Homo sapiens: one gene and its partner. The protein of the gene in region 2 interacts with the protein of the main gene of each other region in a biochemical or structural test. Each region holds a gene or a part of one and is shown on either strand. Other genes may lie near its edges.

Region 1 (3,748 bases), on a different chromosome or scaffold from region 2:
CTATTGGCTTCACAGCACACCCTACAGTGAGCAGGGTGATGAGACCGTGGAACAGCTACCTGCTTTTGGTTAAGATTGCCAGATATCATTAGGACACAGTAGCAGCAAGAATGCTGATTTTGTAGTGTTAGAAAATGAACTCAGCTTGTTTTTCCTAATTTTGAAGGTGGTATATATCTGCAAACATTTAAAATGGTATAATATCATATAAAATGTCAAAATTAGCACAGTCCCTGGATCTCAAAGAATAGGTAATATTGACTTGGATGTTCTTTATGCTCTCTGAAGAAAGGTCTAGGGAAAGTTCTTGTTTGCTTGATTGATCAAGAGTGCCACGGAAGAATGTGAGCGCTGTGGAGGGTGGAGGAGGGTGTCACTTCAGATGGGGCAGGCACAGGGGGAGAAAAGAAGAGAAAAACACACCTGTGTGCAAAATGAGCTATTTGGTTTCAGTGCGGCCTGACCGATGGGGAGGACCCATGAGCAGAGAGAGTTCTAGGTCAACATTGTAACTCCATTGTCCTCCTTCACCCATAAGTCAGTCCTCCTTCCTCATTACAGTGAAACCAACAATATGCAGAGGTTGGGGAGAGATGCCTGTTCTTCCCCCAGCTTCATATAATTGTCAAAGTTCCAAAAATGAATTATCTGAACTGCTTAAAACTGGAAATTAAAATCTAGACAAGAATATGTCTTTCAAGAGCTTTTTATGTTTTGAAAGTTCATAAACCTAAGATTGGCTCCATCTGAGATAAATTTTCTTTTCTTTTTTTTTTTGAGACGGAGTCTCGTTCTGTCTCCCAGGCTGGAGTGCAGTGGCATGATCTCGGCTCACTGCAACCTCCACCTCCTAGGTTCAAGTGATTCTCCTGAGTAGCTGGGGTTATAGCTACCCACCACCACACCCAGCTAATTTTTGTATTTTTAGTAGAGGCAGGTTTTCACCATGTTGGCTAGGCTGGTCTTGAACTCCCGACCTCAAGTGATCCACCTGCCTTGGCCTCCCAAAGTGCTGGGATTATAGGTGTGAGCCCCCGTGCCTGGCCCACAATAAATTTTCATTTCAGAGAAGGAAAAAAATCTCTTGAACGTCCAGAAATGATTTCTGGAATCAGAATTTCAATATGTAATACCCTCAGGTAGGCAATCTTGAACCCTCTATGCAGTGAGAGCATTATTAATATGAGATGTTGAATGATGCCTTTACAGACTTCAGCAGCAAAGCCATTTGGTTGAGGTTTTCTGTGTTAATGTGAAAAGCTAAGCCACTGAGATTTGCAGGGGAGCTTCTGAGCCACCCTGCTTGTTGGTTATATGAGGATGTAAAATAGGTGGAATTAAAATGTGAGCAGGAAAGGCAAGGCATGTGTGCATTTTCACTCATTTTGGTCAAGGTTAAACTGACATGTATAGCACTGAGGTCTGTAGGGTTCTTAATATCTTTTGAGTCTTGCTGTGAAATGAAAGTGTGGGAGGTTTCCTTTGTCCATTAGCAGCCCCAAGAACCAGAACCCTTTTGCTGCTTTTCTTACATACCTAACAGCTCTCCAGTCATGATGACCAAGGTTGTTCTTCAATCAAATGTGTTTGTGGGATTTTCAGTCCGCAAATGAAGTGCTCTCTAATGAATGGGACACCATGATAAATATGTATTTATATTTAGATGCCAAAGTATGGCAAATTATTTCCAAATGATAACTACAAATGGGAATTTTCGATATTCTACCTTTTTTATAGAACCAGCTCACTTTTCATTTCTTTTTCATTTTGAATTAAGAAAATTGTTGAGGATGTGGTGGGTTCCAGTGTGTGGAATGGAAAGGAAACTGCAGAATAGTGTCTGCTCCCCATTCAGAGGGACTGCTTCCTGTGCCCCCCAGACCCGGGGCTTCGACAGCTTCTCCACATTCCACACAGATGCCTAGGAGCAGCGAGTTGGTATATGAAAAGTCTCCCACCTTTTCTCCTAAAACTTCTCTCCTTTCTCTCCATAAAAAGAAAAGGAAAGGAACAAAAGAAAAACATTCAGTTTTTCTTTTTCTGAAAAAGGTAAGTCCTTTCCTGAAGTCATCAAATGAAACATTATCTGGAAATTAGTTTCTAATGTTGTATATGAAGAAATACTTAAATATAAGTTCCTGCAGTATTTATTAGATAGTTGTAACTGTAAACTCACCTCCCTAGTAGATAAGAGTTTCAGGTTAAATACTGGAACATATATAGGCAGTCAAAAATACTACTTTAAATGTCATTCACCTATTTTAAAGCCATGTTTTAGCACTTTTTAGGCCAAAGAAGGTCTGATAGTGCCTGTTTTTATGTTCTGTACTCTCACAAACTTTGTTACTCAAAATTATTGCATGGCAGGAGAGATTGGATTATTTATTTCTTATATTTTTATAAGTAAAAAAATCTTTCTAAACAACAAATACCTAACATTATTACTGATTGTTTTCCTAATTTATCCTCCTAAGTTGAATGGTAACAAAGCTTTTCCAGCTGAATGAATGCACTTAGCTGATAAACCAGAATTTGTTCTTTTTTTTCCTTCTTTTTTTTTTGAGACAGGTTCTCACTCTGTCACCGAGGTTGGAGTGCAGTGGTATGATCATAGCTGACTGCAGCCTCAACCTTCTGGGCTCAAATGATCCTTTCACCTCAGCCTCCTGAGTAGCTGGGACCACAGGTGTGTGCCACCACACCTGGCTAATTTTTATGGATTTTTTTTTCTTTTTTTTTTTTCGCCATGTTGCCCAGGCTGGTCTTGAACTCTTGGCACTCAAGCAGTCCTTCTGCCTCAGCCTCCCAAAGTGCTGGGATTACAGATGTGAGCCACTGCACCTGGCCCCAGAAATTATGCTTAAAAAAAAAATTAAGCTGTGTGGAATCTGGACAAGGCTATGTTTCTCCTAGAAACAGGTTTTGCTGTAAATGGTTTTGATGGGCGAAAGTGTGAGAAAAGGTTATAATAGATTCTTTTTTTTAATTTTGTGAGAAATTCCAGGTCTTCTTGCTTAACTTATATGCATGTGGATATATTTGTTTTCAAAGCCATGGAAGAATCTCTGTTCATATATTTTAATGCAAATTACCTTGTATGCTGCTATGCAAATTCTATTAAAAGGCCTACCTGCTTAAGAATTAAACATTTTTGAAACTTTCAGGGAAGACCTGTAGACTCAAGCACTTTCTCTGCTTTTTTGTATCTTATCTTGGACACTTATGCTGAATTATGTTCTTATTATTTTCACTGGTTATAAGCTATTCCTTGTACATAATATTTAAACTATCCAAATATCCAGCATACATTTCCATGTGGCTGCCATCGGCTGTTGATGCCATGAATGAAATGGCTGGTTAGAAAGCCAAAGGTCTTCTTTTTTCAATTCCTAATGAATAAGTAAAATGCCAGATCTCTTTGGTCTCAAAGCAAATTGCTCTGATCAGATCAAATATCTATGTAATGAAAAGAGACTTACTTAAATTTGGGATTCTGCTTAAACTTTAAGTTGAATTTGACTGTAGTCATTCATTCTTTTTATATATCTCTGTCAGGTATGACATTAATTACCAGGTGGTATTATACTCTACTTTGAGTTTGGACATCACTTTCAGTTAAATTTCTGTTGTTATTGTGGCTTTTTTTTTTTTTTAACCCCACTGAAGATGGAAGTAGAGCAGTCTGCCATCTCCTGCTGTTCTTTCTCTGTGCCCCCTAATTGCTTGGTAATCTAAAATTATTCTGACT
Region 2 (3,748 bases):
TAAACCAGTGATCAATTTTAACATCACTAATAGAACAGTCAGACATCATGTACTTCCTGAAATGATGCAATGAGAGGCATTTTGCTTTAAAAATTCTTTAATTTGATACAGTCAATACTTCATATATAACTTCTAGTTTACAGGAAATACAGGTGATATACAGGTTATACACTGGAGAAATACAGGGAAATACAACATGAAGAAAAAAATCAGATAAACCCAGAAGAAGAGTTCTAAAGAAAAATTGACCTGGTCTATCAACATGACAATGTCAAAAATGGGGGAGGGGAGAGAGGATATGGTGTCTATGCTAATTTACAGAGATTAAGAAACATAACAAAGGCCGTGGTTGTTCTTAATTGACTGTTATTTTGAACAAAACACCTGAAAAGAAAAGGCATTTTTGGGGAAACAATCTGAGAAATTTGAATATGAACTGAGCATTAAATTATATTAAGGAATGCCCGGGCGCGGTGGCTCACGCCTGTGATCCTAGCACTTTGGGAGGCCGAGGTGGGTGCATCACGAGGTCAGGAGATCGAGACCATCTTGGCTAACACGGTGAAACCCCGTCTCTACTAAAAATACAAAAAATTAGCCGGGTGCAGTGGCAGGCACCTGTAATCCCAGCTACTCAGGAGGCTGAGGCAGGAGAATGGCGTGAACCTGGGAGGGGGAGCTTGCAGTGAGCCAAGATAGTGCCACTGCAGTCTGGCCTGGGCAAAAGAGCGCAAGACTCCTTCTCAAAAAAATAAAAAAAAAAATTTAAAAAATTATATTAAGGAATTATTGTAAATTTTTTTAGGTGTCATAACAGCACTTAGGTTATGCAGGAAAATGTCCTTATTTCTTGGAGATGCATAATGAAATATTTAGAAGAGAAATGTCATGATGTCTATCATTCATGTTTAAATACTAAAAAGAAGCAAATATTGTAAAACATCAATAACCATTAAGTATGGATGATGAGTATGTAAGTATTCATTATGCATTTCTGTCCTTTTTAAATTTTATTTTATTTTACTGGAAAGCAAGAGAGGAAGGAGATCAAATCTGAACTTAAGAAGCTCACTCCCCTACTTATTGGATGACTAGAGTGGAAGCAAAAGAGCAGTTACTAGCTGATTGCTGCAGTGGTCGTGGTGAAAGAGCACAGTGTTTCAGTTCAGGTAGTGAGGATGGACAGAAGTGGACTGATGGGAGATGTATTTTGCAGGGAGAAACCATAAAATGATTGATAGCCTCGAGGTGGCACAGACGGAGAGAAAGGAGAGTCAAAGCTAATGATGAGGCCAGGCCCGGTAGCTCACACCTGTAATCCCAGCATTTTGGGAGGCGAAGGCCGTTGGATCACCTGAGGTCAAGAGTTCAAGACCATCCTGGCCAACAAGGTGAAATCCCATCTCCAATAAAAATGCAAAAATTAGCCGGGCAAGGTGCTGTGCGCCTGTAATTCCAGCTACTAGGGAGGCTGAGGCAGGAGAATGGCTTGAACCCAGAAGGTGGACATTGCAGTGAGCCAAGATCACGCCAGTATCCAGCCTGGCCAACAGAGCAAGACTCCATCTCAATAAAAAATAAATAAAAGCTAATGATGACAGCTAATATGTATGGAGCATGTAGTATGCACCAGTCCAGTCATCCTTCTAAGTGATCCATATTAGTGTAACGAACAAAATCTTCACAATCACTGTGTGAGGCGGGTAGTAACTATTAACACCTCCACTTTGCAGATCAGGAAACTTGGACGCAGACAAGTTAAACAAGGTGCCCAAGGTCATACCCTTAGTAGATGCCCTGCTAGAACTGGAATCTAGGCATGCCTAACCATTTTTTCTTAAGGAAGAGAACAGTATCTTCAATGACAATGAGTAAGAGTACTTATTCTACCCACTTTTCTGCTTCTTGTCTTCGGGTTTATCGTTCTGGACCCACCTATCTTTCCTGGCCCCCCACTTAACTTAACCCTTTTCACCCACCCTGGGGCGGGGAGACAGAGGTGATCCTAGAAGAGGGCTACAGGGATGGGGCCAAGTGGGAATTCTAGCGAGGCGCCTACTATTTGATGGAGGAGGGATGGGCTAGGTAGGTCCCCCGCTCCGACAGGGCTCTTACGCCATATGTGACGCAAATTAGCTTACGAGCCGGGGGTGGAGGTGTCGTCAGCACCCGCCTGCGGTTGGCCGCGTTGCAGCGAGAGGGGCATGTAGACCCCGCCTCGTAGGGAGGTGGGGAGCGGCAAGCCCCGCCTCAGCCCCTCTGGCAGGCTCCCGCCAGCGTCGCTGCGGCTCCGGCCCGGGAGCGAGCGCCCGGAGCTCGGAAAGATGCGGCGCCCGCGGCGGCCTGGGGGTCTCGGGGGATCCGGGGGTCTCCGGCTGCTCCTCTGCCTCCTGCTGCTGAGCAGCCGCCCGGGGGGCTGCAGCGCCGTTAGTGCCCACGGTCAGGAGGAAACTTGGGCTGGCGGGTGGTGGGGGGCGGGGAGCAGCTTGGGGCCTGGAGCGAAACTCGGTGGGGGTGAGGGTGAAATGTCATGAAGCTCGGGGAGAATATGGGTTGGGGGAGGCATGCGAGATGAGGAAGGTGAGAGGGCGTCTCGGAGGAAAGGGGCGTAGGCCTGGAGGTGGGGCTGGGAATACGGGGGCGGGACCTAAGAGAATTGGGCTCTGGGGAAAATTGCAGGTTCGGGAGAAGGACACGGGGTGCATGTGGGCAGAGGGACTTAGAGACCGGCTGCGAGACCACAGGAGAAGCCACTTGCTCCGAGGCGCCTGGGAGGTGGTGACAGGCGCTGAGGAATGGGAAGGGGAGGTGGCGGGGAGAATGAGGGAACGGTGATCTCTGGGCAGTGGAAGCCTGGGCCGCAGACATAGAGTCCCAGCTGGGCAGAGAGAGAGGCCAGGGTTTCTCCGTAAGCCTAGAGAAGCTGATTGCAGCGATCTGATCTCCTGTAACGGGGGACAGCACGGGGAGGGGGCAGAAGAGGATGAAGAGGGGAGGGTCCTCTCTTGTCCCCCTCCCCACAGCCAGGCCTGGTGCTGACTCACATCTGTGCGGACAGAGACAGTCAGCGCTGACTCACGGACAGGGGGTGGGGGATGGGAGGGTGGCGCGTGGGGGAAGGGGCGCAGCCTCGCCGCCTGGCGCCCTCTTTCCCCACCCGGGCTTGGAGGCCCGAGAGGCAGAGTACTTCCTGTGACGCTGTGGGTTGGCAGAATACAACAGAGGGCTCAGGTCTAGTGGAGAGTCCTCGCTCTGTGACCCCTTCCTCTCTGGTAACCGCCTCCAAGGCCAGCCCTTGGCGGCGCCAGACTCAGAGCTTCAGCACCGCGGACAGCGCCAGCGGCTCGGGACAGCGCGAGGAGAGATGCCTAAGAGACACCCTCCCCAGCCCCACCCATGCCCTCTTTCCCCCGACCGGGGGAAGTGTGCTAGAACCTCTTCTGAGTTCCAGGCCATTATAGGATGCTTTTCCATATTTGGGAAGGAAATTCCTCTTTCAGAATTTGGCCAAAACCTCTCCTGCAGTAATTCTATGAATCTCTCTCCCTGCACCTGGAAGGTTTCTTCCCTATCACTCAGTTAAGCAAACAGAGGCTTTTAAGGATACAGACTCACAAATTCTTAAAATCCAAAACAAGATCCCATGCTTCCTTTTAAGAAATTCAGGCCTGATTCCTACTCTCCTCCCAGCTTAAGGCCTTCTTTAGAATGAAAGAATAAATTGCATCTGCTTCTCCCGTTCCCAGCC

What was found.
Region 1: the proteins of PTPRN (region 2) and SNTB2 form a complex in vitro, tested with the Homo sapiens proteins (2 studies listed by BioGRID and IntAct).

What each region holds. Positions count from the first base shown.
Region 1 is NC_000016.10:69,302,121-69,305,868, forward strand, and holds part of SNTB2 (beta-2-syntrophin), read left to right. Parts: 3' UTR 1-3,748. UniProt on the Homo sapiens protein: Adapter protein that binds to and probably organizes the subcellular localization of a variety of membrane proteins. May link various receptors to the actin cytoskeleton and the dystrophin glycoprotein complex.
Region 2 is NC_000002.12:219,307,909-219,311,656, reverse strand, and holds the start of PTPRN (receptor-type tyrosine-protein phosphatase-like N isoform 1 precursor), read left to right. Parts: upstream 1-2,255; 5' UTR 2,256-2,324; coding exon 2,325-2,439; intron 2,440-2,686; exon of another isoform or gene 2,687-2,775; intron 2,776-3,748. UniProt on the Homo sapiens protein: Plays a role in vesicle-mediated secretory processes. Required for normal accumulation of secretory vesicles in hippocampus, pituitary and pancreatic islets.